Regions from separate parts of the Homo sapiens genome. Here regions 1 and 3 are each linked to region 2. The links come from fine-mapping of genetic effects on gene expression. A gene starts in region 2. Each other region holds a variant in brackets. All regions are shown on one strand. Distances are between the middles of the regions.

Region 1 (10,522 bases), 360 kb after region 2:
TGGAAGCCTAAATTTATGCTCTCAATTGCTGGTTTCCACTTGCTGGTCCAGAAGTTGCTACATCAGACACACTTGGAGAGCTTTATAAACACATTATGTTACTGAGCCTCACCCTTAGAGATTCTGAAAGAGTGGAGTGAAATCTATATCTAAGCAAAGCTTCCAGGTGACTCAGATATAGCCAGATGTAGGTGCTACTGCTCTAAGCAACAGTAAGCCACTGCCTTTTTGAGAATGAGAGGGACATAAATGTAGCCATCTCATTAGTTTTTTTATAGTTAAAAGCTTTAATAATAAAAAGTGGTACTTTCACTTAAAATTTTATATTTCTCTTTTATTCATATTATTTCCCTCAGAGATCTACTTCATAGGATCCATGTGTTCTCTGGTAATACACACCTATAAGAACCCTGAACCCATCATAATCTCACCAAAGTATGTAAAAAATAATTTTCTGTTTGGTTGTTTTGTTAAGAAAGATGAACTGGTATGTTGGAGGGCAAGGTTCTAATAGCAGTTAGGAGGCTGTGGTACTACTCAGTAATGCAGGCATAAAATGATAGAGATCTAACCAAGATGGTAAAAGTAAGAATAAAAATCAAGAGATAAATCAGAGCCTTGACACTTTATAACTTCTAAAAGAAAACACAGAAAGTATCCTTTGCAACTTTAGAGTAGGCAAAACTTTCTTTAATAGGAAAAAAGTTTGAATCATAGGAAAAACTGATAAATTGGGCATCAATGAAATTAAAAACATCTGCTCTTAGAAAGAAAGCATTAAGAAAATAAGAAAGCATGCCAAGACTGGAAGAAAGTACTCTCAATACACATGGCTATCAAAATGATATTAAAATGTATTAAAGAACCTTTAAAACATAATAATACAAACAAGACAATTTTCAAATGGGCAAACATATGAAATGATACTTTGCAAAAAGAAGATGTAAAAGATGGCCAATGAGCATATGAGATGCTCAAACATCATCAGTAATGAGGGAAATGTAAACTGAAACCACAATATACCACTAAACACCTACTGGAATGACTAAAATAAAAAAGATCAAGGATGTAGAGCCACTGGACAGCTCACACACTGCCTAAGAGGAATGTAAGAACGGTCCAACTACTTTGGAAAATGGCTTGGCCATTTCTTATAAAGTGAAACAAACACTCACCACATGATTCAGCAATTGCACTCCTAGGTACTACCCCCCAAAAAATATATCTCCAAAGCATTGTATACATAATGGAATTCTATCAAAATACTCGACTCAAAGTTTGAAAAATTTGAACCTCCAAAAATATGACAAAATTGACTGGAACTTAAAAAGTCTGAGTTTAAGTTCAAATTTTAGCTCTACTACATACTATGTAGACTTGTAAACCTTACCAACTGCTCAGTTTCCTCATTTGTAAAATGGGGGGAATAATGATTTATATACCATAAAGTCCTCGTAAGAATTCCATGAGCTAAGGCATATAAAAGCCCTCAGAGACATGAGGACCTTTAAATGTTATGCACTATATTATCAATAAGCTTTTGGAACTCTAATTCTTTCCATTCAGAAGCTAAAATGCTGATCATGAGTACTTGAGATAAGGCAGATACATCAGAGGTTTTCTGGACATTGGTTTATCTCCTCCAGCAGTTAATCTTCACCATGACCAAAAGCTAACAGATAATCTTATTTCAAACAAACCTCCTACACATGAAAACTGTGATATGGAATTTCAGTGGATAAACCAGAGGAAGGTATTTTGCTTTACAAAAAGCCAATGACTTTTAAAGAAGTACATCTACTATGTAATTTACTCTAAAAATATTAATTTATTCATAAACTTACCTAGGAACATTTAAGTGCAAATAAAGATATGACTAACACCGTGGCTGCTTTAAATTAGAGGGTTATATATGGGCCATCCATACTAAAAGAAGTTCTAAATGAGCCTCTAAAAGATACTGAAGTATAGCAAAGCCTAAAATGTCAGCCTTCAACCCAAATGGAATCATTTTTTATTTAAAATACTGATGACAGTAATGATAATAATATTATTATATCAGCGATCATGTGTGGTTATCATCTACCAGGTGCTAGGCTTTATATACATATTAATTCATTTTAAACCTTAATAAAATCCTATGTGCTAAATACTATTATCTTCACTTTACCAATGACTGAAACACAATGAATATATTAAAATCCATGAGTTCCTCATGATATTAAAAAAACTTAAAAGGCAAAAAGAATTTGTCACCACTGGAAGTAGACTTCACATTACGCCTTCAATCAAAAAATTAATACTTTGCAGTAAACAAATACCCACACAGCCTACCTTTTCTGTAGGAACTAACTATATTTCACATTTACCAAGTAACCCTAAGTGATGATCTTGTCTTTAAAGATTTCATTAACACATATAACAAGAATGACAGAATTATAAAATCACTATTTTTCAACTCCTAATATTGTAACTGATTCAGTTAATGATCATCAAAGGATTCAAACATCTTTCAGTAAAAAGTTGATGGGGGACACGATTTTTGCAAGGTGCCAAATATATCATCTTTATCTTCACTTTCAAGTCATAAAGAATGAAAAGACGCAACTTTCAATGAAGAGAATCAGGCTATCCTCACCTAAATCTACCAATCTTGTATCACTAGCAGCAGGACAATCAGATATTAAGTGAATTCTTATGTGATGCAGCATGAAGTACTACACACTCCCTACAAAGTATTCTTGCCAAAAATGCTCTAGCTAGATATAATCGAGCCTTTGCATTTAACTTCTAGTTTACAGAAAATATAGAAGATACAGAAACAAATTAAGTAATACCGCAAAGATGTAATCAAACAATCTAAAAAAGTCAAACACTCTACAGGACACTGGCCTAGATCCATTTTTTTTTTTCCTGAGATGGAGTTTCACTCTTATTGCCCAGGCTGGAGTGCAATGGCGCGATCTCGGCTCACTGCAACCTCTGCCTCCCAGGTTCAAGTGATTCCCCTGCCTCAGCCTCTCAAATAGCTAGGATTACAGGTGCCCGCCACCAAGCCTGGCTAATTTTTTTGTATTTTTAAGTAGAGATGGGGTTTCACCATGTTGGCCAGGCTGGTCTCGAACTCCTGACCTCAGGTAATCCACCCGCCTTGGCCTCCCAAAGTGCTGGGATTACAGGCATGAGCCACTGCACCCGGTCAGCCAAGTTTCTTAAAACCGTCAAAGACACAAAAGAAAACAAAAGTAAACAAGGAGACTCTTTAGGATTAAGGACGTAATGACATAACCAAATAAGATGTATGGACTTTATTTGGTTTCAGCAAGCCTACTGTAGAAAGATTTGGGGAAAACTAGGCAAAATTTAAATATAGACTAGGTGTTAGGTTATGTTAAGCAATTATCATCAGTTTTGTTAGATGTAATAAAGGTTTTATGGTTACATAAGAAAATGTGCTCATTTTTTAGAGACACATTAAGTATTTTGGGGTACGTCATGAAGTCTGTAATTTACTCTAAATATTCACGCTGTACCCTAAATAAATGAAACAAACAAAACAAAAGGTTAATAACTCCTTACATCTATACAATGGGTATATTAGTGTTCACTGTACTCTTTTTTTAACTTCCCTGTTTGCCTGAAAACATTCATAATAAATATAAACAAGTGTAGTTTTAATTATTAGTAACTAACCCTTTTGTTGGTTCATTAACTCCTAAGTTAAAGAATTCCTCTAAATATTCTAGTGCACAGATACATGCATCAGAGAAACCATATCTATTATAGCCAAAATTCTGATGCACAGTGCAAAAAAAAACCAGGTCAGTTGCATTGTTTCAGAATTTTATCTTAATGAAGCTTATTTATACCAGAGTGTGTATCATATATCGTTTTTCAGGTCTTCCAAAAAGCATTTTGGCAACAAAAATGCTAACTTTTCAAAAATACAATCGACAACTAAGCAATATATGTTATAGTAATTATTTTCATCTTGTTACATAAATTTTTATAGTTCCTACCATGCTATATGAAAGTGTTTCCATCTAATATATGACTAGATAAACATTTTCTATTGAAATAAAGTAGAGGATGGGTGCGGTGGCTCACGCCTGTAATCCCAGCACTTTGGGAGGCCAAGGTGGGCGGATCACAAGGTCAAGAGATCAAGACCATCCTGGCCAACACGGTGAAATCCCGTCTCTACTAAAAACACAAAAATTAGCTGGGCATGGTGGCATGCGCCTGTAATTCCAGCTACTCAGGAGGCTGAGGCAGGAGAATCGCTTGAACCCGGGAGATGGAGGTTGCAGTGAGCTGAGATCGCGCCACTGCACTCTAGCCTGGCGACAGAGCAAGACTCTGTCTCAAAAAATAAAGAAAGAAAGTAGAAAATGATCATGTAACTTACTATTTACAAGGTAGTACTCATTTGAAAAGTTACTAAAGCCAAATTTCAAAAGATAATTCATAAAGTTACAACATCAAAACTGACTAATTACAAAGTATGACAGAACTCTAAATTTAATTTTTAAAAATACTCAATAACCTAAGTATACATTAACTTTCAAAACACCAAATTTCATTTCTCAGTTTTAAAAGCAGAAGTCCTTCCACCACAGCTATGAGTAGTACCACAGGAGATTTCCGTACATTTGATTAAATAAACTTCAGCTGAGGAGCAGAATCCATTATACAAAACTTATCAATTATGAATTAGAAACTGTGATCCCTGAACTTCTGGGAGTACCCAAAGACCCTTCTAGAGGATCTGCAAGGTGAAAACTAGTTTCATAATACTTTTTCATTATGTTGCCATTTTCATTGATGGCACAAAAGCAATCTTGGGTAAAACTGCTGGCAACTTAGCATAAATCAAGGCAGAGGCACCAAACTGGAGTAGTAGGCACTGAATTCTTCAGTCATGCACTCACAGAAGAATGACAGTTTCACTTACAGATGTCCTTGATGAAGAAGTAAAAATTATTGCTCTTGAACCTTTAGTACGTAAGATTTTAATATTCTGTGCAACAGAATGAGAAGCATACATAAAGCCCTTCTCTGTACTATATTTTTTAATGTGTCAACACTTGGAAGATCTGCATAATTCAGTGAGCAAATATTTTCCAAATGACTAATGCATGATGTTACAAAATCATGCATGAGTAAAGAGCCATTCAAAATTCAAGAGTGAATTTTAACAGAGTATGAAAAGTGTACTGACAGCGTTTCAGATTCCAGATTGCAATTAACATAAAGAAAATTACTACTAGTCAAGTTTTGGCATATTATCAAAGAATATCTATAATTATGTATAAACCCCCCCCATATATATATATGCATGAGACCAGATTTTATTCATATACTTCAATCGGATCATCACATCACAACAGACTGCAGAAGCAGATACAAAAATGCAGGTGTCTTTTAAGCTAGACATTAAAGTGATTTG[C/G]AAAAACCGCCAAAAAGCAGTTCTTAATCATGGATGGTTTTGTCCCTCAAGGGATACTTGGCAACATCTGGAAACATTTCTGGTTGTCACAACTGGGGTAACTGCTATTGACATTTTCTGGGTAGAGGCCAGGGATACTGCTAAACATCATATAATGCATAGGACAGCCCTCCACAACAAAGAACTTTCCAGGCCAAAACAGTGCCAAGGTTGAGAAGTCCTGAAAATAGTTCGAAGGTTGAGAAGTCCTGGGATAAACCATTACCAACCTTCTCAATCAACTTTTTGGGGAGTAGAGGGAAAGAAAACACTGTAGTTCTTAATAAAAATGTTACTTACATTAACATGTAATGGGTTTATTACTTTAAATGAATTAAATTTTTAAATTTCTAGTTTTAATTTATAATATAATAAAATAGATATAACTCACATAAACAAAAGCACTTCACAGTCTTCAATAATTTTTAAGACTACAAAGGAACCATGAGACCACAAAGTGTGAGAATCGCCAAATTAGATGAATGATATAACTAACGAAGTATGTTGGAGAATATTAAAAAAAATTAAAAGTCTAAAGGAAAGTGTACTCATTTCAAGAGTATTATAGATGACCTAAACAAAACAAACAAAACCCCTTACAAAACCAAATAGTTAAAAAGAAAAAAAATATGATAGTCCCCAAATGTCATTCTCCCCTTCTCCCCTCCAAAAACAAAAACAAAAACAAGACAAAACATGAAAACCACAACTTCCTACCCTGGCTATGAGGACTTGCTGGACTAAGAGATGGCTGATGCAAATCTTTGGTTGGCGTTGGATAAGCTTCTTTTCCTTGGCGCTGACTCATCTTTCCTGGTGTCAGAAGCTGAGATTCGTCACTGTTTGCTACAACAGCTCAAGGAAAGAAGGGAAAAATAATTAGTACTGAAGTCACAGATTTACATAATAGTATAGTTAATAACATGGAATAAGATCAAAACTGAAATGGCCTTGGTGGTTATATTCATTTTACCAACTCAATACTTTAATAAATTCTCACAGTCATCTTGTTTTCATGTTGGTTTGTTACTGATCCAAGAAGAACTGACAGGTATGTTTGAGTCAAATATACAAATTATAGACATTATAATAATGAAAATACATATCCAACTGATAATGAAAGGCCTAAGGTTTACTGTGTGCCTTTCATTGTGCTATTTATTCTTTATATTTACCAACAAAATAAGCCAAAGCCAGTCATTTCCCAAAAAAAAAAATACAAATCGTCGATAAACATATAAAGATACTCAGCCTCATTAGTAATCAGAAAAACTACAAATTACTAGCAGTATAAAATAATATTTGACATTCGCTAGAATTTCTACTCTAATTTCTAATTTTCACGAAAAGTCGGTATGATAACTGTTTTAGAGAGGAGGAAACTTGAGGGTCAGAGATTGCCTTGCCTGAGGCTAAACAGTAATAGAGGCAAGATTCTAACTCAGAACCATTTGGTTCCAAAGTCTGTCTCTTAAAGCTTGCTGCCCCAATAAACAATTTAAGTAGTGCTTTGTAGTTGCTTCTCACCCATTTGGCCATCCTACTATCTATCGCTCAGTAATAGCGAGCCATGCCCAGTTTCAGAGAGCAGAAACAAAGTGAAAACACTCAATGAAGAAACAGGGCAAACTGCCAAGTCCAAAGTACCTGAGGATCTCCACATTCTTTCATTTTATATTCCTGTGCTTTCAGCCTATAAAAACTCGAGTTTCATCTTAAGAAAGGACGATTTACTAGCACTTTGGGAAGTCGAGGTAGGTGGATCACCTGAGGCCAGGAGTTCGAGACCATCCTGGCCAACGTGGCGAAACCCCGTCTCTACTAAAAATACAAAAATTAGGCAGACGTGTTGGCGCGCCTGTAATCCCAACTACTAGGGAGGCTGAGGCAGGAGAATCGCTTGAACCTGGGGGGCAGAGGTTGCAGTGAGCAGAGATCATGCCATTGCACTCCAGCCTGGGCAACAAGAGCGAAACTCCACCTCAAAAAAAAAAGACGGTTTAGTCTCCACCATAGGTTTTATTTTTCAATACAGACATTCAGAATTTCACATTCACCTTTTTATCATCATGTCCTTTAAATCTAATTGGTTTAAAATGTTTTCTGTTGCGATAGTTTTCAAAATTTTATTTCAGCTCCTTAGATTCCAAAGTAAAAATACAAAAACACTTGCACTTTTCATCCAAAATATAAAAAATTATTTTTCCAAGTCAATTAAAAAAATGTATAGACTGATGACTCCCAACTTCCTATCTCCCCCTAAACTCAAACTTACATACCCAACTGCCTGCCTTATAATCACCTCTTAATTATTTACAGGCATCTCAAATTTATCTAGAATGTAATTTTTGATTCTGCTCATCCTTCAAACCTGCCTCTCCCCAAACTCAGTTCATGCCATCACTACTCCCCTCCCACTACTTTCTCAGGCCAAAACCTTAGATGTGTTTTTATTTTTCTCTTTCTCTTACTGAGCAATCTTTTAAAATCATAAATTAGATTTCCAGTATGCAGAAATATCCTCACTGGCTTCCCATTACATTTACAATATAATCCATAACCTGGAAATTCAACACAGTCTGGCCTGCTACTTGTTCCAACCTCATTCTCTACTACTCTCCTGTCACTCACTTGGCTCCTGCCGTAATAGTCTTCTTGGTATTTCCTCAAGAAAGGCCATCTTTTGCCCAGTCACAGGGCTTTTATCTCTTGCTCTTTCTACCTGGAATATTCCTACCCCAGATCATCACATTATTAGCTCCTCTCCTTTGTTGTCTGGGCTCAAAGGTCATCTCTTCAGAAAAGCCCTTTGGTTTCTTCATGGTACTTTTGATACGTTCTTAATTTCAACATGGCACAATTTGGCATTTTTTTTTTTTTAGGGTTAGTACCCACCACTTCACAGTTATACTATTATCACTTTACCTTACATGATTTTCATTGTAGCTCCTATCATTATCTGAAAAATATAGTTTATTGCTTTTCTTCCTCCATTAGACATTAAATTCCATGAGAGAAGGAAGTTTTGTCTGCCTTATTTTCCCATAAATTCTCAGGTCCTGGTAAACTTCCTGCCCTATTGAAGGTGTCGCATCCTACCATACTAAAGATGTTCAATAAATTTATGTTGAATGAGTCAATAAACCAACTTTATATTTTTATAAAACATCATAAAGTATATGGTGTCTCTTTCAGTTACTAAATCCAAGATTCATTTGATTCCTAAAAATAATTTTAAATGTATGGTACTGATGCAGAGAGATAAATTGACCTAAAGAACATAGCAGATAGCTTTCAGAAACAGACACATACATACATGGAGCTCAGATATACAACAGAAATAGGGAGAATAAATTACTCAGTTAACAATATGAGGTTATCAACTGGTCATCAATATTGGAAAAGTAGAGAGAACTCTACTTCTTACCACACACAAAGAATAGTTCTATGAAGACTACAGACATAATGTAAAAAAGCAAAACTGGAAAATCTTTAGAATAAGAGAATATCTTCATAAACTTGGGACAGAGATTCCTTTAAAAAGACACAAAAAAGCACTAACCCAAAAATTAAAAAATCAGTAAGTTCAATATTAAAAGTATAAATTTATTTAAAGGTATCATAAACTGAAAAGGCACAAAATAAGATATTTGCAACACCCATAATTAACAAAAGGTTGGTACCTAGAATGTTCTTAAAAAAAAACTTCAATAAATCATTAGAAAAAGAACATCATAATAGCAAAATAGGGCAAAGACTTGAACAGTGATTCACAAAAGAAAAATGCAAATGGGCAATAAATGTATGAAAAGATGTTCATCCTTTTTTAGTAATGAGGCAAATACAAATCAAAATAATAAATATTTTATACTCAGTAAAATTAACAAAAATTAATGTCTGATAATACCAAATACTGATGAGGATGGGATCATCGAGATGTCTTAAGCACTGTTAATGGAGTATAAGTTGATACAAGCACTTTGGAAAACAATGTGAGCTTCTTATATAAAACTGAATACCCTGTGGGTCCAACAATTCCACTCTTGGATCTAGAAAAACTTTTACAGGTATATACCAAGAGACAAGAATAAGAATGTTCATAGCAACACTGTTCATAATAGCAAAAACCAAACAACATATTCATCAATTGAAAAATGAATTTTAATAAATTCTGGCATATCCATATAATGAAATAGTATATAGCACTAAAAAGGAATGATCTAGTTCTATAACAAACGACATGATTGAATATTAAAAGTAAAATGTTAATTACAGCCAGGCACAACGGCTTGCATCTATAATCCCAGCTACTCAGGAGGCTGAGGTGGGAGGATTGCTTGAGGCCAGGAGTTCAAGACCAGCCTAGACAACATAGCAAGACCTATCTCTAAAAGAAATAAAAATTAAAAAAAGTTAGCTGGGCGTGGTAGCTCACACTGTAATCCTAGCATAGCAGGCATCTGTAGTCCCAGCTACTAGGGAGGCTGAGGTGGGAGCATCACTTGAGCCCAGGTGTTCAAAGCTGCAGTAAGCTGTGATAACACCAATGCACCCTAGTGTGGGCAACAGAGCAAGACCCTGTCTCTTTAAAAAATTAAAAAAAAAAAAAAAAGGTAACTACAAACAGCAAGTCCTAGAAAATTATATAAACCATGACACCATTCTTTTAAAATTGAAAACCAAGCAAAATCTAGTGATACATACATGAGTAAAAAACAATAAAAAAAAGACTTTTTAAAAAGCAAAGAATAATAAAAAGAAAAAAATACAACCTAGTCATGCCCTCTTGGGGCAGGCTCAGGGATAAAAAAGCAGCAGAGGCCGGGCGCGGTGGCTCAAGCCTGTAATCCCAGCACTCTGGGAGGCCGAGGCTGGTGGATCACGAGGTCAGGAGATTGAGACCATCCTGGCTAACACGGTGAAACCTCGTCTCCACTAAAAAATACAAAAAAAAAAAAAATTAGCTGGGCGTGTTGGTGGGCACCTGTAGTCCCAGCTACTTCGGAGGCTGAGGCAAGAGAATGGCGTGAACCC
Region 2 (10,522 bases):
CTCCTGAGTAGCTGGGACTACAGGTATGCATTCTCCACCACACTCAGCTATATTGTTTTAATTTTTTTTGTAAAGACAGGGTGTCTCACTATGTCGCCTAGACTGGTCTGGAAATTCTGGGCTCCCGCCTTGGCCTCACAAAGTGCTGTGATTGATTACAGGTGTGAGCCACCACACCTGGCCTCCTGAAAGGAAATCTTCCTTCCTAAACTGAACTAAAAACAAAATCTTCCACTGAAGAGGGGAGGCAACTGACTGAACTAATTGGATACATAGAGCTGACATAAGGCTAAGAAACCATTACCCAACTGCAGTCACATAACGTTTCAGTCAACACAGGACTGCATATACAACAGTGATCCCACAAGATTATAATGGAGCTGAAACATTCCTATTGCCTAGTAATGTCACAGCTCAATTCATTATTCATGTTTGTGGTGATGCTGGTATAAACAAACCTACTGCAGAGTCATATAAAAGTATGGCACTTACAATTATTTACAGTACATAATACTTGATAAGGACAATAAATGATTTATTGGTTTATGTATTTACTATACTATGCTTTTTGTGGTTAGAGTACACTCCAACTTATTTTTAAAAAAGTTAAAACTGCCTACAGTATTCAACATAGCAACATGCTATACAGGTTTGTAGCCTAGGAACAACAAACAGGCTATACCATATAACCCAGGTATGTACTAGGCCGTACCATCTAGGTTTGTGTAAATACATTCTATGACATTCACAAAAGGATGAAATGGCTTAATGATGCATTTCCCCCAGAACACATCCCCATCATTAACCATGCATGACTGTGTATGTAAACAAATTCTATGCTGGAAGAAGACTTCATGACCATAACTGCTATACAGCTTTTCCCTAGAGCACAGTGGGATACAAGGTGGAGTGCTTTTGAATTTCATGCTGCTATGGTTTGAGTATTTGTCCCCTCTAAAACTCAAGTTGAAATTTAATCCCCTATGTGGCAGCACTGAGAGATGGGGGTCTTTAAGAAGTGATTGGATCATGAGGGCTCCACCCTCACAAACGAATTAATCCATTCATGGATTAATGTATTTCTTTATAAATTACCCAGTTTCCCACCAGGGGAGCTGGAGAGCCAAGCTACCCAGTTAGCACACTCAGCCCCCTCCCCATGTGATACCCTGTACTGCCTTGGGAACCTTCAGAGTCTCCACAAGTAAGGTTCTCACCACATGGGTCCCCTCGATCTTGGATTTCTCAGCCTCTATAACTGCAAGAAATAAATTCTTTTTTTTTAAATAAATTACTCAGTTTCAGGTATTCTAAGCAACAGAAAATGAACTAATATTCATGCTGATTTATAGCAGAACAGTGTAAGTCAACATTCTTTCAAAACCAGGATAAAAATTATCTCATCATAAGTTATCACTGCTCACGTACGTAACCACGGACGGGTTATCTAACCACTCCACACCTATTTTTTTTCCTTGTTAAAATGTTGATGCTACCTGTCTCTAAGTAAATTAAATGAGCTAATAATACACACAGAATTTAAAACAATGCCTGAATAATCAATCAGTGTTGCCTATTACATTATTTATCCCTGTTATGCTCTTCTGTACCCTCTTTAGAAAATAATTCCAAGACTGAAATTATAACTCTAGACAGGTGTGGTGGCTCACACCCATACACTCAGCACTTTGGGAGGCCAAGGCAAAATCGCTTGAGGTGAGGCATTTAAGACCAGCCAGGGCAACACAGCAAGAGCCTGTCTCCACAAGGAAAAAATATATATAACCCTGTTTCCCAATAAAAATTAAAATGTACAAAACTTCTGAATAAGTAAAAATATATACAAATATGCAGGAAGTAAAAGGCAGAGTTGGTAACCAAAGGTATAGAAGCCATTTTCTATGGCAAGCCCACTAATGTACTCTAATGTTCTGTAGTCATTGTGCTAAACGACTTACATATGGATAGGTGTAAAGTAACAACTCTCTCCTTCTAACCCCTATTCTGCCCAAAAACTTATTTAGATGAAACTAGTTTGAAATGGAACTTAAAATCATCAAATTATAACAGGTTCCTTTGTGTAAACGCTGTATTACTCTTTGACCCCTTTACCCTTTCCTTCCTTTATAGCTCTCATCACAATTTAACATTCTACATCTAAGCAACCAATTTGCCTCTTTTGCTCATGACATAAGATACATGTCCATACAGGTGCTAGATAGTTACCCAAAGACTAAACTGAGAACACAATTACAGGTTTGATTAAACTTGAAGATCTGAATACACTGATCATTAATATTTTGATATTGATGAGTCATTCTCTCTAATCCTTTGTTTCAAATTTACAACCAAGAAGTGAATAAAATATTGTATTTTGACATCTTCAGACCTTTGAAGTCCAACAGATACTGCTTCTTTAGCCCCTTCTACAAAAAGACCCTTAGTTTTGAATATATTTTGAGAATTTAGAATCAACTCAGTTTTACCAGGAGCCAACAGGAGCAAGCTGAATAAAATGAGATGGCATTTTGGATTACATTAGTTATGGTACAGGTATTCGTTTCAAAAATCTCATTAAAGGCCAAGTGCAGTAATTTACCATATTCAGTATTAGCTTTATAATTCTGCAAATCAATGGGCCTAATATAAAAATAGGCACTTTGTAGCAGATAAAATTTAGAAAGATATTCAAATTGGTATAGTGAAAACTTTTAAATTTCTATTTACTAACATAATGTTGACTTGGAGAATCTATGAAAGTCAGGTTTTATGACAGAAGATGTCCAAGTCCACCTACCAGGGTTTAGTTCCATACATTCTCCAAAGGACAGTATTCTTAGAACTAAACTATAGATTTAGGCCATTTATTTAAACTTGGGCAACTTCAAACAAGCTTGAAACACAAGAGTGCCTTGAAAATAACTGTAAAAGTCATTTACTTCCCTTCGATTTTTAAATGGTACCCTATACATAAAAGGTTTTTCCCTTATTCAATCAAAGGTAATGTATATTACTTCCAAAGTATAGGAGTATTAATTTAAGCTGACCAAAAAAAGAGGACCCAGATACTCGTTTCCAAAGATGTTTTGAATCCACCTATTTTCAAAAGGCCAAATTTCATTTTACAGCTCTTGTGAAACCAGGCAAGCAGTGTAAATTTTAAAATGCAGCAGTGGGATATCTTCAAATGTAGCAGTGAGATTTTTAAAATGTAGTTGTTTCAAAACTGATCAGTGACCGTCTAAAATACGGGCTCCTTGAGGACATCCTGCGCCTGGTTCATCCTTTTTGCACTCTCAAAGTCTAGCCTTCCCAGATGGGACCTCAGTCCCAGCCCCCCTACACTGCCATCCCCCAGATCTTTAGGGCAGTAGGGTTCATTGACAAGGTTGCAGGCTACAAACTTGGCAAAGTTTATACTAACACCTCATTCCATCCCACCTCCCATCTTAAAAAGGAAACCGTTAAGTATCTTATTCTAGTGACTTCAATAAAGGAACTAATTTATAAGACAGCCAAGAACAATTAAAGTCATAAAGGGCCAAACATTTTATTTTCATCTAAGAACCGTTTGCAGGGGTGGTCCGATCTTTTGGCTTCCCTGGGCCACACTAGAACTGTCTTGGGCCACACGTAAAATACATTAACTAGCTGATGAGCTTTTTTTTCCAAAAAAAAAAAAAAAAAAAAAACCTCATGAATTTGTGTTGGGCCACATTTAAAGCCGTCCTGGGCCGCGGGTTGGACAAGCTTGGTTTAGGGGTTTAGATCGATCAGGATCAATACTCCCCAAATAAAAAACCCTGATCAAGACACCCATCTAACAGTACCTGGGAAACACAATAACAACCTTTTGCTAATAACAGTTAATATAAGCGCTATATACGCGTTAACTTTTTAAAATACTAGCAGTGGAGGCCCTTCCTTATCATCAGCTAACATCCACAATCTCTGGTACCAATAAAAAGATTAAGACCAAAGAGAAGCAGGGAAGAGTTTGAAACCCAGGGACAGGGCTTACTCGCTTACCCTTCCTTTTCACATTCCACCGTCTCTACAACTTTCAAAGTAAGCACAGACCGAGGGCAAGGGTCTCCAACCAGGCCCAGCCAGTGGCCATGAAGCCCATTACCACGTGTGGAGCGAAGCCGCCGGGGGTTTCCCCTCCCCGCGCGGCCGCCCCCAATGGGCGGAGAGCCCGGGAGCGTCGCAGCCTCCCCCGCCCCCTCCCCGCCTCGGGGACTCGTCCCTCCACAGCCCCTCCCTCCCGTCGGAATTCGCAGCCTCCGCCGTTCTTTTCATCTCCCAGCGGCCTCCCTCCTGGTATTATTTTTGAGGGAAAAGCAGGGGGGTGTCCAAGAGGCGGCCGGCTCTGCACTCGGCCCGGCCCGTACGCCGGGGGCCTCCCGGTCCTCGCGGCGCAGCCGAGTCTCAGGGCACCCGGGCGTCACCGCGGCCTCGCTCCGGTCCACGCGGAAAAGACGGTGGAGCTCAGAGAACCTTAGGCCTCCAGGCCGCGCCAACCCCTACGTCGCCTCAGCCGTCCCCGATAAAAGCGCTGGTCGGCCCCGGGGCCCCTCTCAGGCTCCGGGGTCCGGACTCCGCGGTCCTGTCCGACCTCACAGGACGACCCCGGAGGCCACGGGCGGCCAGCGGCCCCGACTCCCGGCTCCCAGTCCCTCCATCCCTCCGGCCCTCCCATCTGCGCAGGCCGCCCAGCCAACACCACGTTCCCCCTTCCCTTCCAGGCCCCCATCCGTTACCGGCGACTAGTATGGGGAGCCAGGCGGCCGGAGCTGCGCAGGCAGTGACTCAGGGCGGCAGCGGCAGCAGCAGCGGGAGGAGCAGGAGGCGGCGCCGCGAGCAGATGGCGCTAAAAAAGACCCAAGAGCCCGCCGCTCGCGCTCATATACAATTAGCGTCAGCACGTAGGGCCCTTTCGCCGCCCTCCTCCCGGCCTTGTAGTCTCCCAGCAACGCGAGCGAGAGGCGGGTCCAGGCCGGGTTGCCTAGCAACTGAACCGTCCTCCTTCCCCGGCGACCTCCATACCCCCACCGAGGACTCCTGCAGCCCCGAGGCCCAGGCGCCGCGCTTGGGCTCCTCTGGTTCCCGCCGGTGTCTAACCTCCTCTGTTAAGCACCCCACCATATCTTTTCTCCCTGCTGAGCCGGAAAGGAAATTTCAACCCCATCAGTTGTGGGGAAGGCCTGGCCCGCGTGCCCGGCGCCCGGCCCGCCCCGCCCCCTTCGGCGTTGTGCTGGGAACGCTCAGGGCTGGCGCCAGTCGCCTGGTCCCTCGCTCGCCGCAGCCTAGACGGCGGACGCTCCCTGTCAAGGCCTAATTCCTGCAACTCGCCGGCCCCCGGTAACCGTTTTCCTTCCCCGCCTAAGAAAAACAGTTTTTTCCTCTAGACCACTTCGGCGGCCTCTTCTGACAGTTTTGCTTCTCCTATGCCAGCGGGTCTCCGCGCCTTTAGGGGGTGCTCGTCATCCTTTGCCCCCCAACCCCCCGCCACATCCTCGTAACTGATGTACAGTCCGTCAGTTCGGCTTCAGTTCTTTTGACGGATGAAAATGGCATATTTGTGCATTCTCTGGATGCGTTATAATGAGGACACTCAGTACGTCCGTTGTTTCATCTTTCTGAAAAAGTAAATCACATTAAATCCTCAGGCTTGTAAAACCTCATAGCTAATTTTCAAGTGATGATGAATTGACTAATACTAACTCAAAAAGTTGTTCTCAGAGTATGGTCTGAGGGTCCCCAGACCCTTTCATGGGGAAGGTCAAAACTATTTCCATATTAATGTCAAGACTGCCTTTTGCATTCTCATTCTCTCACAAGTGTACAGTGGGGTTTTCCGGAGGCTACGTGACATGTGATAAGGAAACAGACTGAAAATAGAAGCAGATAGGAGAATCCAGTCATCTGCGGTTAAACCAGACGTTAAAGAGATTTGCAAAAACTCGATTTGGGGGCAAGGGGGAGTAGTTATTTTTCATATAAAAATTATTTTTTGTTAATATTTGATTGCTTTATTGTTTTTAAATGAAATACTCTTAAAATTTCTCACTTTTAATTTCTGATATAAATATCAGTATCAGTAATGCACATAAAAGTTCTTTGGGGTCCTCAACTTTTAAAGGAGTGTAAAGGAATCCTAAGACCACAAAGTTTGAGAACCTCTTCTCTAAATCTTGCATTTATTGAAACTTCAAACTGCCTAGAATCCCCTATTGTAATCCACACATTTAGCAACTTTATCTTCCGTTTTAGGGGATACAATGTTTTCCTTGGCCCTCCAGAACCTCATTGAAATTATTTGCCTTCCCACTCTATACTGCAGACGACTCTGTTTATTCATTCATTTTAGTTTTTCATATACAATTCCTTTGTTGTTCTCATAGCCTATTCCTGTACACCCTTCTCAACAATGATGTAATGATACAAGGAGCATAATAGCATCAATAATGGATCTTCAGGAAGAACCCACTATACATAAACAAGGTAGACCAGTGCTCAGTTTGAACATAAATTTGACACATTAATTTCAATAAGAACTTCAGGAATGTTGCATTTTAATCAAAGCTGTGCACGATGCAAGGTAATTAGCATATTAAAATGAACTAAATAACTTTCACTTTCTTTCCATAAATCTTTATGGTAGCAGAATTTCTGAGACAAAATTGAGAAGTTAGCTTTTGTGGTGGTTTTTATCCCACACCAGAGAGCCTCATCAATTTTCGGCACTTCGCTCATGAAGGCTCTGGATTTTTTAGGTTTCACCACCCCCCCACCAACCCCTATAACTTAGGTGTTATCATTACCAGTACATATGCTCTTTCCCCCTTTTCTCCAGCTTCCTCTTCTTTTTTCAGTGTATCCTAGCCAATCTAAGAAACTAAACAATAAAATATTTCTAATAATGCATGCCTTTGTAATATAGTCTTTTGAACCAGTTTGTAAATCTAAGTCTTTGCCATTAAAGTTCAGGGAAGGGCAGACATTTATGCATTCATTCAACAAATATTTATGTCAGGCACAACTTCGGACTCTGGAAATACAGCATTTAGTAAGAAAGACACGGTTCTTGATTTTATTGAAGTTATGGTCTAGTGAGGTGAGGCAAATGATTAGAGATAAAATAATTTTACTAATAAAATATTAGTAATAAAACAATTTCACTTATCAATAATAAATAATTGATAAGTGAATGCTATAAAGAAAATAAAATGAGAAAAGGGGTAGGAGGTGACTGACCTGAAGATACCTTTGAGCTTTTTTTTTTTTTTTTTTTCGACGGAGTCTCACTCTGTTGCCCAGGCTGGAGTGCAGTGGCGCGATCTCGGCTCACTGCAACTTCTGCCTCCCGGTTTCAAGCAATTGTCCTGCCTCAGCCTCCCGATTAGCTGTGACTACAGGCAGGCGCAACCACGCCCAGCTAGTTTTTTTGTGTTTTTAGTAGAGATGGGGTTTCACCATGCTGGTCAGTCTGGTCTCGAGCTCCTGACCTCAAATGATCCGCCTGCCTCAGCCTCCCAAAGTGCCGGGGTTACAGGTGTGAGCCTCTGCATCCGGCCACCTTTGAGCTTTTTACATTGGCCCCTCTTATACCCCCAAATCACACAATGTAGTTAACTCATCTAACTTAATTGCAATAAATGGTGACCCTGGTCACTGATCTTGGGCCATGCGAAATTTTCTGTTGCAGTTCCTTTTCTCATGCTCTCTTTGGAAGCATATATACTAAAATTAAAGGTCCTTTTTTCTCTATCTCCCATGATTTTCATTTGGTAGACTTTTATAGCATTGTAGCCTGGAGGCTTAGAGGGGTGGCTTTGGAGTCAAACAGCCTATTTTGTCCCCATTTTTCTACCACTTAATAGCTGTGTAACTTTGGATAAGTCAGTTAGCCATCCCAGGTTTCATTTTCCACATCTGTAAAATGGGGAAAATAAGCATGCATTTTTCATAGGGCTGTTGTGAAACTTAAAAAAATTTTTTTTTTTTTAAGTCAAGAGGGATCTTGGTATATTACCCAGGCTGGTCTTGAACTCCTGGACTCAAGAGATCCTCCCACTTCAGCCTCCCAAAGTGTTGGGATTACAGGCATGAGCCACCTTGCCCAGCTGTGAAACTTTTGGAGACAGAGTCTCACTCTGTCACCCAGGCTGAGGTGCAGTGGCGCAATCTCGGCTTACTGCAACCTCTGCCTCCCATGTTCAAACAATTCTTGTGCCTCAGCCTCCCAAGTAGCTGAGACTGCAGGTGCGCGCCACCACATCCCACTAATTTTTTTGTATTTTAGTAGAGATGGGGTTGCACAATGCCCAGGCTGGTCTCAAACTCTTGAGCTCAGACAATCCACCCGCCTCGGCCTCCCAAAGTGCTAGGATTACAGGTGTAAGCCACTGTGCCTGGCTCAGCTGTGAAACTTTAAATAACACATTTAAGTTGCTTAACATAATGCCTGACATATATAGTGACCGCTCAATAAAAGGTAACCATTTTTAACCTCTTACTGAAGTTTTGTTTTTATTTTTGTTTTATTTAAAGGTTTAAGGAACTACCCCGAAGTCTTCTGATAGTGTCTGACACTTTTTGTGACATATTTTATTAAAAGCTATCTAGTCACAGCTTTTAAAAGACATTTTCCTGAGCTGAAATAATCCACACCAATTACCACAAAAATATTATAGTCAACATTTCTCAATATTGGATAAGAACTATGAAGATCAACAAGAAATTTGATGACAAAGATGGTATTTTACCTGTGCTTGTGTCTGTGTTTCAGCCCCTATGTAGTAGAAAAAAAAGCATAGGCTTTAACATCAGACAGGTATAGGCTCCTTCAACACTGTGACCTTGCAAAAGTACTTATCCACTCTGATCTTCAAGCTTCCCTATCTGAAAAATGCATTAATAATTATAATAAAATCTGTGTCTTTATTAGCATGAAATAGAGAAATGTATGTAAGTTCCCAGAGCAATGACTTGCCCTTTAAGTACTCAGTATTTATTTTCTTCCCTCTGAATTAATCTGTAGGTAAAACATCCAAGGGAACTAATAATAATTATCATCTAAAAACTGCACAAGATACATTTAAATAACAGTTACGTTAGTTTCAGATCTGGATTTTTTTTCTACTTTTCCCCAAATTAATTTATAGCTGCAATGTAATCAAATTCCAAGTGGAAAATTATGGATAAGATGCCTTACATTTTTCTCTCTACATTCAAAAAAAAGGATTAATAGTTTTTTTGTTTAAAAAAAAAATCTTTTTTTTTTTTGAGACGTAGTTTTGCTCTTGCTGACCAGGCTGGAGTGCAATGGTGCGATCTCGGCTCACTGCAACCTCTACCTCTGGGGTTCAAGCGATTCTCCTGCCTCAGCCTCCCAAGTAGTAGCTGGGATTACAGGCATGCACCACCACGCCTGGCTAATTTTGTATTTTTAGTAGAGACGGGGTTTCTCCACGTTGGTCAGGCTAGTCTCAAACTCCCGACCTCAGGTGATCCGCCCTCCTTGGCCTCCCAAAGTGCTGGGATTATAGGAGTGAGCCATTGTGCCTGGCTTTTTTTTTTTTTTTTTTTTTGAGACAAGGTCTCACTCTGTCACCCAGGCTGGAGTGCAGTGGTACAACTACAGCTTGACCTCCCTGGCTCAAGTAATCCTCCCACTTCAGCCTCCCATGTAGCTGGGACTACAGATGTACACCTCCGTGCCTGGCTAATTTTTTTATTTTGGGGATCTCACTATGTTGCCCAGGCTGGTCTCCAACTCCTGTGCTCAAGAGGTCCTCCCACCTCAGCCTCCCAAAATGCTGGGATTACAGGCATGAGCCACTATGCTTGCCTTGTTTAAGAATATTTTTATTTTCCTGTCATTACTTAACTGAATTTTTTATTGAAATGATTATAGATTCACATGAAGTTTTGAGCAATAACACAGAGAGATCCATGAAAACTTTCCCCAGTTTACCATAATGGTAACAATCCATGATCTTATTCAGATTTTCCCAGTCTCACTTGGATCCATTTGTGTGTTTATGGATTTAGTTCTATACAATATTACCATTTGTGGCTTTGTGTATCTGTCACCAAGAAGATACAGATCAGCTATATCGCCCAAGGATCCCTTATGTTGCCCTTTCATTCATTTATTTTTAAATTTTAATTCTTTTTTTTCCTGGACAGGATTATTGCAGTGTATGTTGACCTTTTATTATGGTCAGGGTTTTTTGTTTTTTTGTTTTTTTATATGCCAAATAATGTTCTACATTCCTAGATTTTATTTTATTTTGTTTCTCACACATAGACCACTTAGGTAGAAAATATGCCATTGTTAGGCTGGGCGCGGTGGCTCACGCCTGTAATCCCAGCACTTTGGGAGGCCGAGGCACGTGGATCACCTGTGGTTGGGAATTCAAGACCAGCCTGACCAACATGGAGAAACCCTGTCTCTACTAAAAATACAAAATTAGCCGGGCATGGTGGTACACGCCTGTAATCCCAGCTACTC
Region 3 (10,522 bases), 69 kb after region 2:
TCTAGTAGGAAAATTTTTTTGTGTCTCTTCACATGAAGGATAAATATTTTTAGAGGCAGCTAAAAGAATTTTCTCCCCTTGAAGCACAGATTTCTTTCCTTTTTAACCTCTTTTTGCCTTCACTTTTCATATCTCCATGTATTCTCTCAAGACTCATATATTCAACGTGTGGTAAGAAGGATACCACTAAGAAAAGATAAACTGCATATAGTTATTATGGCTGACGGATCTATGTAATTATAGACTGTTAAGCACATTACAGTTGAGGAAAGCCACAGAATGTTGGTAGAACTCAAGACAGGAGAATATTGGTGTGTTTGGAATGTATATTATTTTATTCTGCGATGGCATAGCTCTCTGTGCATTTGTTAACAATTTCTTTTTTTAAGCCCAGTGGCAAGAAGAGCTTCTTGTTATATGGTCATAATGTTGAAAATTGTAATATATGCTGCAAGAATGCAACTCCAGTACTGTGGAAAGAATTCCTCTTTTGGAATTTACAGGAATCACAGTCGAAGAACAGAGAAAGGTGAATAAGGAAGCAAACTGAGCTGATATGATATTTCCTTCAGCTCAGGACTGGCCAACATCTTTATTTGGTACAAAGAACAGTGCCAGATGACAATCCTACAGAGGAATTTGAAAGAAAATCTCCAGCGGAGGGTGAGATTTGAAATGCAGAGTCAGTGAGCCAACTTCTGATAGTCCAGGCAGCCAGGTCAACTGCAATGCCTACAGGTGAGGTTGGGCTTCACTAATAACACCTAAACCATCAAAATCACCTGGAGGAGCATTTAAAAGGTGGACTCCTGGTTCTACTCCAGATGCATTGAATCCAAATGGGGATGAGGCAATAAGTCTGTGCCAAGCACTGTTCTAGGCACTTTTATTATTCTGGACACTATTATTATCATAGTCCCTATTATTTTATTAATTCAACCATTGCATTTGTCAGGTATTGGCCCCTTTTTACAGGTGAAGAAGCTGAGGCTCAGAGAGGTTGAGTAACTGGCATCGAGTCACAGAGCTGTGACTCCAACCAAAGTCTGCTTCTAGCGCCTTTGTAACCCTTGCACTCTGCCAGAACTGGAAATGAGGTAATGGAGACATACTCAAACTTATAGTTGTGTTATTTTTAAAATAATAAATATTATTATTTAGTGCCCAGAAACATGTATTCTTTTTCTGATGCCATTTATTGCACATGTAACCTTTTTAGAAATAAACTTTATTTTTAGAGCAGTTTTAGATTTTCAGAAAAATGCAAAAAATTGTACAGATAGCTAGGTCCCATACATACTGCACCCAGCTTCCCCATTGTTAACATCTAACATTAGTATATTTGTTACCATTAATGAATCAATATTATTTAGAGTCAGCAGAACTGTATGCAAGACTCAGGGTTATCTCTTATGGCTTGAGCGGTCTTGGAAAAGAAACATAATCTGTTGAATCTTAATTTACTCATCTCTAAAATATAAGTAATAATAATAAAGATTTTGGCCAGGTGTGGTGGCTCACACCTGTAACCCCAGCACTTTGGCAGGCCAAGGCGGGCGGATCTTTTGGGGTCAGGAGTTCGAGGCCTGCCTGTCCAACATGGTAAACCCTGTCTCTACCAGAAATACAAAAAATTAGCTGGATGTGGTGGCATGCACCTGTAATCCCAGCTACTGGGGAGGAGAATTGCTTGAACCGAGGAGGCCAAGGTTGCAATGAGCCGAGACTGTGCTGCTGCACTCCAGCCTGGGTGACAGAGTGAGACTCCACCTCAAATAATAATAATAATAATTTCACAGGGATATGTTGGTATATTTGAGGAGAGCCCCATACCCACACTCTTCCCTTGCCTACCTCCTGTAGAGGCTGAAGTAGCTCCATTAGGGTTCCTAAATCTGATAAAGAAAAATGTGGCTATCTGCAGGGAAGTGGTTTTATAATACCGAATTCCAACAAGAAACATATTGGCACGATGAGGCACACTGGCCAGACAATAACAGGGAGCACAGAGGAACAATGAGCATGTGCTTCAGCCAGAAACTTTCTAGAAGCAGCAGCAAGGAAGGAGTGGGGCTCCACATGGCCAGTGTCCTCTTCAAAGCTCATCAATCTGTTAGAGTCCCTCCCCTTTCCTAAGGAGAGGAGCTGGATGGGGGTCAGAGGCTGGGAGCTCAATGCTAATGGTGATTGGACACCCCTAGTAGTTAGATTTACACTTAGGAATTGACCTACATGTGTGCACTCAAATGAATGTGTCTGGTACAAGTATTCACCAGAAAGGTACTTGCTCCAAATAACTCCTTCTGCAACAGGTACTCATTTTTATTTTTCATCAAAGACTGCTATATTTGTTTCAGAAATAGTCCAGTTGCTAACAGTGAGTAGGCATTTGTGTAAGGTTGTAAAAAAGAAATGTTTTGAAATGAATCTCTATTATGACTACAGAAAAGACAATCAGATTAATTATGTTCATGGACAGCGTTTTACTGATAATGATTTCCAAAATTGGCTCATCAACAGAGTCACCTTTTTGAAAATAGAGACCTGGATGGGTGCGGTGGCACACCCCTGTAATCCTAGCACTTTGGGAGGCCGAGGCAGGTGTTCGAAACCAGCCTGACCAATATGGTGAAACCCTGTCTCTATTAAAATTAAAAAAAAAAAAATTAGCCAGGCATGGTGGCGGGCACCTATAATCCCAGCTACTCAGGAGGCTGAGGCAGGAGAATCGCTTGAACCTGGGAGGCAGAGGGAGGTTGGAGGTTGCAGTGAGCCGAGATTGCACCACTGCACTCCAGCTTGGGCAACAAGAGCGAAACTCTGTCTCAAAAAAAAAAAAGAAAAGAAAAAAAGGAAGAAAGAAAATAGAGTCCTATGTTCCACTTGGTCAGAATATCCATAAGTGAGGCTGAGGTCGCTAGAGAAATTTTTGAAAAGTGCCTTAGGAACGCTAGTAATCAGAGTTTGGGACTTATTGGTGCAGACTGTATAGAGGGACATTTAACACTGAAATTTGATTTTGGGTGAAAAAAGTAATTTTTTTCCCTAAAAACCATAGTCTTGAGTTATTAAAATGTACAAACAGATTTTATTTATTTTATAAGCTTTTCTGACTTTGAAAGTCTTTTCAAATCAGTAAAATATTTTAGTCTCAGCAAAACTATTATATTCTATACTTTGGCTATTAAGTATTAGCAGACAAGCTGCTGGAAAAGTTAAATCTTTAAAAAGTTTGCAATTTGTGCTGCAAATGCTAAACCTATGTTTTTATCTTCCCTATATATACCGATGTTTTTATCCTCCTTCCTGAGAAGGTATGCTGTTTGAACAGACAAAAATACAGATACTGCCTAGCCAACACTAAAAATAGGAACATGTCTGAAATTCACATACTCATATGCCTCCCTGCACTTCCTGTACCCACCTACTGCTTTCTCTAGTTTCTATCCCTGGCTGCGGAACCAGCCCATCCCTTTCCTAAAGAGGCTTCTCTGTTGCTACATATCAATGCAGAAACCATTGACGTGCTTCTGTGTCAGCAATAATGCTCTGTCTTTCCTACCTCATTCAAGGATCCCAGGATTCTTTTTGAACAAGAAAGAAAGGTTTATTAGTCCTCCCCACACTTCAATGCGGCAAGGAGTCAGTATTATTTTGAATGAGGCCCAGAATGAACTCAGCAGATTCATAGAACTGGTCAGAGTGGCAGGTGAATCAAAAGTTGAGTTACAGGCCAGGTGTGGTGGCTCATGCCTGTAATCCCAGCCCTTTGGGAGGCTGAGGTGGGAGGATTGCTTGAGTCCAGGAGTTAGAGACCAGCCTGGGCAACATAGTGAAAACTTGTCTCTGAAACAACAACAACAAAAATTAAAAAATTAGCTGAGCATGGTGGCACTTACCTGTAGTCTTAGCTACTCAGGAGGCTGAGGTGGGAGGATTGCTTGAGCCCAGGAGGTTGAAGCTGCAGTGAGCCATGCTCACACCACTGCAGAGTGAGATCCTGTCTCAAAAAATAAATAAATAAAAGTTGAGTTACAAATTTGTTTCTATTGGTTTTTTTTTTTTTTTAGACGGAGTTTCCCTCTTGTTGCCCAGGCTGGAGTGCAATGGCATGGTCTTGGCTCACCTCAACCTCCGCCTCCCGGGTTCAAGCAATTCTCCTGCCTCAGCCTCCCGAGTAGCTAGGATTACAGGCATGCACCACCATGCCCGGCTAATTGTATATTTTCATTAGAGATGGGGTTTCTCCATGTTGGTCAGGCTGGTCTCCAACTCCCGACCTCAGGTGATGTGCCCGCCTTGGCCTCCCAAAGTGCTGGGATTACAGGCATGAGCCACTGCACCTGGCCTCTATTGCTTCATTTATTTATTTATTTATTTTAATTCAAGAAGAAAAATCAGCCTTATGTCTGCCAGTTTCTATTCTATTTAGCAGATTTCTCTTTGCTTTGTTCTAAATATACATAATTACTTTTTCATTTTCATACTCATTCTGAGAAATCTGAATTAATAATTATTTACTGAGTGCAATATCAGCTAGCTATTGCTGCATAACAAATTTAGCTGGTTAAAACAGCAAGTACTTATTTCACTCATAATTCTGCAGGCTGGTTGTGTAGCTTTTCTCTAGGTTTGCTTTCCTGTTCTTTGCTGGGCTTGCTTATATTGTCTGTGGTCAGCTGGAGATTTGACTGGAAGCTGGATGGTCTAGGATGGCCTTGCTCACATGTCCGGCCGTTGGCAGGTTGTTGGTTAGGAGCTGGCTGGCAGGGACACTTCATACTTTCTCCTTTCATCTTTCAGCATGCCAGTTTGGGCTCCTCCACATGGAGATCTCAGGGTTCTAACCACAGCAAAAGAGAACAAGGCATAATGTGCAAGTCTCTGCTTGCTTCTTATTTGCTAGTCTCATTTTCTAAATCAAGTCACACAGCCAAGCCCAGACGCAAGGTATGGTGAAATAGAATCTACCTCTTGGTGGGAGGAGCTTCAAATTCACATTTTAAAGAGGTATGCTTACAGAGATGGGAAAAAATTATAGTCATTTTTGCAATTCACCACCAGTACATAGTTTGTATGAAGCTTAACATTTTAGAAATATAGACAAAGCATCCGCCATTGTGTGTGTGTATATATATAATATATATATAAATTTATATATATATATATATATGCACTTTTTTTTTTGAGACTGAGTCTCACTCTGTCACCAAGGCTGGAGGGCAGTGGTGTGATTTTGGCTCACTGCAACCTCCACTTCCCAGGTTCCAGCAATTCTCCTGCCTCAGCCTTCTAAGTAACTGGGATTACAGGCACTCACCACCGCGCCCAGTTAATTTTTGTATTTTTAGTAGAGACGGGTCTTCACCATATTGGCCAGGCTGGTCTCAAACTCCTGACCTCAAGTGATTCACCC[G/A]CCTCAGCCTCCCAAAGTGCTGGGATTGCAGGCATGCACCACCACGCCTGGCCTGGATTGTATATTTTATTTTAGCCTTACCTGCTGATTGAGTTGCAAATCAGGCAAGTCGAAAAAAAAAAATCCCATTCGACAACACAAATCCTACTTTTCTTTCATGATTTTAGTTTCAGATTACCTGTAGAACTTGATGCCACACAGAGCAGTTGCAGTTGGACCAAAGTGTGGTGATTATAGATGGGGTTGGGGTGAGGAAAGGCTGTCCATGGGCTGTGAGAGTAGGCTTCTCAAGTTTTAAGCTTCCATGATGTCACCATGGACTAAAAGCTTGCAGAAACAAAAGGAAAACAGCAAAAATGCTTTATTTTTCTATAAGAGCAAATAGATCTGGCCTCGCTGGGCAAAAAAACATGTATGCATAATTTAGTGAATGGGCATCTTTGGTGACTGATGGAAAAGGGATTTAGCTGAGACTCAATCCCTGGGTGAGAGACAGAGAGTAGTGAGTCAAAACCTCTAGAGAACGGTCACAAAGAGAGCTCATTCTCCATGTAATAATGTTTGAGAATCCTTCAGTGTGAGGAAGGTAGTAATTCTTTTTGATTTTTCTGAGACAGGGTCTATGTTGCCCAGGCTAATCTCAAACTCCTGGCCTCAAGGAATCCTCCTGCCTCACCCTCCTGAATCACTGGGACTACAGAAAGGTAGTAAGTCTACCACTGTGCCCAGAAAAGTAGTAAGTCTAATAAACCTAGACATTAATGCAGCATGACCCTGTTTTTTACTTTCCTCGTTTATAATGGGGGAGAATCTGGTTGTGCTAGGGATGTTTTCCCCCTACCTCGTCCCTTTCTCCTCACCCGTGAACAGGTTCTGTGGATCATGATTCTTAGATAATATTCCTCACTTTCCCAAATGGCCTGCTCATGGTTATCTCTTCCCATAAGGCAATGAAGTGAAAATAGACATTAGCTGTCAGCTGTCAATCATTTTTTATGAAGACCCCCAAGATGAGCACTGAAGAAATACTCCCCTTTCTGAAATACAGTAATATTCAGCTTTGCTTGGTATCTTCTGAGCCAAAACATGGCTTAAGTGATGAATAAGTAACAGGGTGTTGCCTGAATTTTCCATATGCCTCACATTTTGGAAAAGCCTAGGAGAAAGGAAATAACTGTTAAAACATAAACATTGAGAGGGAATTTATAGTAATGTGGTTCAGTGCCCTAAGCTTATAAAGGGGCCTTGGCCACTATTGATTCCAAGTGGAAAAGCAAGACCAAAAAGTTAGGCCCAGGACAAGGCATGGTGGCTCACTCCTGTAATCCCAGCACTTTGGGAGACCAAGGTGGGTGGATCACCTGAGGTCAGGAGATTGAGAGCAGCCTGGTCAACATAGCGAAACCCCATCTCTACTAAAAATACAAAAATTAGCTGGGCGTGGTGGCACATGCTTGTAATCCCAGCTTCTCGGGAGGCTGAGGCAGGAGAATCACATGAACCCGGGATGTGGAGGTTTCAGTGACTAGAGATCACGCCACTGCAATCCAGCCTGGGCAACAGAGCAAGACTCTGTCTCAAAAAAAAAAAAAAAAAAAAAAGTTAGGTCTTGGGCCCCTCGGCCCCTCCTCCACCAGAGCTCTCTTATCTGTTATCTGTTTTACACATTGGGATTTTGCAAAATGTTTCTTGTGATGAAAGTTTCCTAATGCTAAGACATCATTTTGTAGATGAGGAACTGGAGGCCCAGCAAAATGTGGTGACTTGCTCAAGGTCACAGCAGTTGTCATTTGTTGAGCTGAGGGCGGAACTCAAATCTCAATCTCTAGTCCAATGTACTTTGTTCTATAGCATGCCATGTTCCACTTCTTCATATCTAAGCTGGGCAACTTCCTTTTAGTAGATTCTCACTCACAAGATATTAAGGATATTGCCAAAATGTATAGCACAAATCAGAAGATGAAAACTGTCATTTCTTTTTTGAATGATTGCTACAATATGATCTGGGTTCTGGCTTAGAGTTCTTACTTTGCCTCTCACAAGCTGGGTGACATAATATTTTTCTGTTGCTCTTTCCTCCCTATAAAATGGAGACACTGAAGTTCAAGTGAGTTACTGCTCAGTTTTTTTGTAAGCAAGAAGATAATAAATATGGAACATTGCAGTGATGATTGATTTATTGCTTTAATTGTACACAAAAACCCCACTTAATATTCATGAATTGTAAAGGCCTTCACTGAAATGAGCACTTCTGGAAAAACTGAATATAATCATCAAAACAGTCACCATTTATCTGGTACATAGCTTGAGTTAATTAGACAATGATCAAAGGATTCATGTTCTGCCTGCAAACCACGCACTCAGAGGTGCAATGAGAATTAAGGAATGAGCCTTAAGAAGTCATTCAACCATTCCAAATCTTACAAAGCCTGCAGTACTAAAGGAGTACTAGAGAAGAATCCACTGGTTGTCTTTTAAGTGGTAAAGCAACACAAGCACCAAGAACTTCAGTTGGTCCTGAAATTCTCTGCTTCCATTTAAGAGCTGCTTCTAAATGTGGCAGCTCACCCACTGTCTAATTAAAATGCCTTCCCAGAACAGCTTCAAATCTGACAAGGGTGAATAGTTGCCAAATGGGCTTCTTTCTTTGCTGGATCTGTAGGTAATTTGCCTCCAGCTAACAAGAATTGGCACTAAACACCAAAAATGGGATAATGAAGGCCTTTGGACACTGGGTAAGGACTGTTCTATGATGCTCAAGTGTGGAATGAGCACTGTAGTGTGAGCCCAGATTATTCTGTCCATAAACTCGGCAACTGCATGTTGGGCAATTCTATGTTACAAGGTAGCCCGAATGTTACTCAGATGAACAGTACTCTAGTGTATGCAATGGTTTCTAGTTTATTTTGTGATGATGTACAACATCCGGTTTATGTTTCTATTTGTAGATCAAGAAGAAAAAATAACCATGGGGCAAAGGACTAGTGTTGGGAGATTTGTGTTCAGGTTCTGGCCCAGTTATTGATTCTCTTTTCTGGATTAAACTTTGGGCTCCTGTTTCCTTGTCTGTGAAATAAATGGTGGGAGACAAAGATAAATTAAGGATTTCTAAAGTATGTTTCCAGTTCCAACAGCTTCTTATTTTATAGCTAAAGGTAGTAAGAACCAACAACTTTCACTCTTTGGATTAAAGTGCTCTATGCATCAAATCCCAGTGGGTTTTAAAATTATACTGAATCTAGGCCAGGCACAGTGGCTCATGTTTGTAATCCCAGCACTTAAGGAGGCCGAAGTGAGAGAATTGGTTGAGGCCAGGAATTCGAGACAAGTCTGGGCAACAAAGTGAGATCCCATCTCTACAAAAAATTAAAAAATTAGCCAGACTGGTGGGCTCCCTTAGCCTCAGCTACTTGGGAGGCTGAGGTGGGAGATTGCTTGAACCTGAGAGGCGGAGGCTGCAGTGAGCCAAGATCACATCACTGCACTCCAGCCTGGGTGACAGAGCGAGACTCCACCACACACACACACACACACACACAAAATCAGCAAACTTTGAGTAAAGCAGATTCCCCCTCCATTCCCTCTATTATGTCAGTGGGCCTCATCCAATCAGTGGAAAGGCCTTAGTAGAAAAAGACTGCGGTCTCTCGAGGAAGAAGGGAATCTGCTGCTAGACTGCATTCGGACTCGCAACTGCAACAACTCTTTCCTAGGTCTCCAGCCTGTCAGCCTACCCTGCAGATTTTGGATTTTCTAGCCTCCACAATTGTGTGAGCCAATTTCTTAAAATAGATCTCTCTCCATCTCTTTCTCTCTCTCTCTCTCTTTCTCTCTCTCTATATATATAAAATATGAGGAACCTAATAAAAATATATTCTATATATAGTTAAGGAACTTGTTCATTAAATACATGTATTATATACTAGAGAGAGATTTATTTTAATGAATTGGCTCACACAATTATGGAGAAACCAACATGATGTGTGTGTGTGTGTGTATATTTATATATAGGTTTTAGGTTGTGTACTATATATATCATATATAGTATGTGTATATATATATAATGTGTATATATTATATATACTATGTTGTGTATACATACTCTATGTAATATATACCATATATATGTGTCATGTAAACATGGATTCTCTTTTTCTCCCAACACAACCTCAGGAGGTAGATATGAGGAAACTGTGGTTCACAGAGGTTAAGGAGCTTGTCCAAGTGTACATAGCTAGCAAGAGGTAGATGCAAAATTGTAAGAACCACGCTGTCTCCATAACGCATGTGAAGACTCTTAGTTTATGCCCAGAAGAGGGAAGCTGCTCAATATTAATTCTCTTCCGTTTTCCTCTTCCACTGCCTTTTGTCTGATTACTCAGCTGTTTCTGCTAATGTCAGAGCCAGTGAAAGCCACGAAGTGTCGTACCATTCAATTTATAGCTCTCGTGCCATCAGGAATCTGCTCCAAGGTGATTCATGCTGTGACATTCTAGCCAGAAACTGAATCTGAAAGCAGCAACTAACTGTTCCACCACAGGATCTTGGGTTGCCTCAGTTTTCACGCCTACTAGTGGTCAGTTATGGGAGTGTGGTGACCCACTGAACACAGCCGCAGTCTACACTGCTGAATTCATACCCAGAGCCAACCACAGGCCTGTGCGTTGGAATGCACACCTCATTGTCTCCACTTTCATGGTGTAATTTAGAAGTGAGAAGGGAGAGTGGGTAGTGGTCTGAACCTTCCTTTCTGGCTTGGTGCTGCTCAGAGAGCAAGCTGTCTTTCTCATTTGGTAGTCTTGGTTTGGAAGCCGTAAGTGAAACAAGAACCATCCACTCTCTGTTTCTTCTCTCTTCTCCTTTGAAACCACGAAAGAGATCTGTTCCATTAGCACAAAGAATGCATTTATGCATTTTAAGTGGTTCTTTGGCAAACCAGAGGGCTGTTCTATGACAGGCTACAGACATTGTCTGTAGCTATTCATCAGATTGATAGGTGTCCTTATAATATCGATATCCCCAAATGTAACTTCATCTCCTTGTAAATTCATCGCAGTGGGGATGCTAATGTTGGCACCAAGCTATTCTATAATTTTAAGGGAAGAG

The links. PIP is the estimated chance that this variant, and not a neighbour inherited with it, causes the effect. A credible set is the group of variants that fine-mapping cannot tell apart.
Region 1: its variant is the best candidate, but not a certain one, in a credible set for the expression of NAP1L1 in whole blood (TOPMed, PIP 0.60).
Region 3: its variant is the best candidate, but not a certain one, in a credible set for the expression of NAP1L1 in blood mononuclear cells (TOPMed, PIP 0.89).

Annotation. Positions count from the first base shown.
Region 1 is chr12:76,444,646-76,455,167 of GRCh38, forward strand. OSBPL8 (oxysterol binding protein like 8) reads right to left here. Exons shown (of 24, transcript NM_020841.5): 4 at 6,206-6,343. Among named protein-coding and RNA genes, the nearest start is that of BBS10, 100 kb to the left of the region's middle. The variant C/G (reference allele first, on the strand shown) is at 5,450.
Region 2 is chr12:76,079,804-76,090,325 of GRCh38, forward strand. NAP1L1 (nucleosome assembly protein 1 like 1) reads right to left here and starts at 4,882. Exons shown (of 15, transcript NM_004537.7): 1 at 4,764-4,882. LOC124902970 (a long non-coding RNA gene) reads left to right here and starts at 5,282. Exons shown (of 2, transcript XR_007063379.1): 1 at 5,282-5,364; 2 at 6,408-6,930. RefSeq lists silencers at 4,197-4,266, 4,317-4,376, 4,447-4,496, 4,637-4,716, 5,157-5,316 and an enhancer at 4,612-5,153.
Region 3 is chr12:76,148,927-76,159,448 of GRCh38, forward strand. No RefSeq gene overlaps it. Among named protein-coding and RNA genes, the nearest start is that of NAP1L1, 70 kb to the left of the region's middle. The variant G/A (reference allele first, on the strand shown) is at 5,417.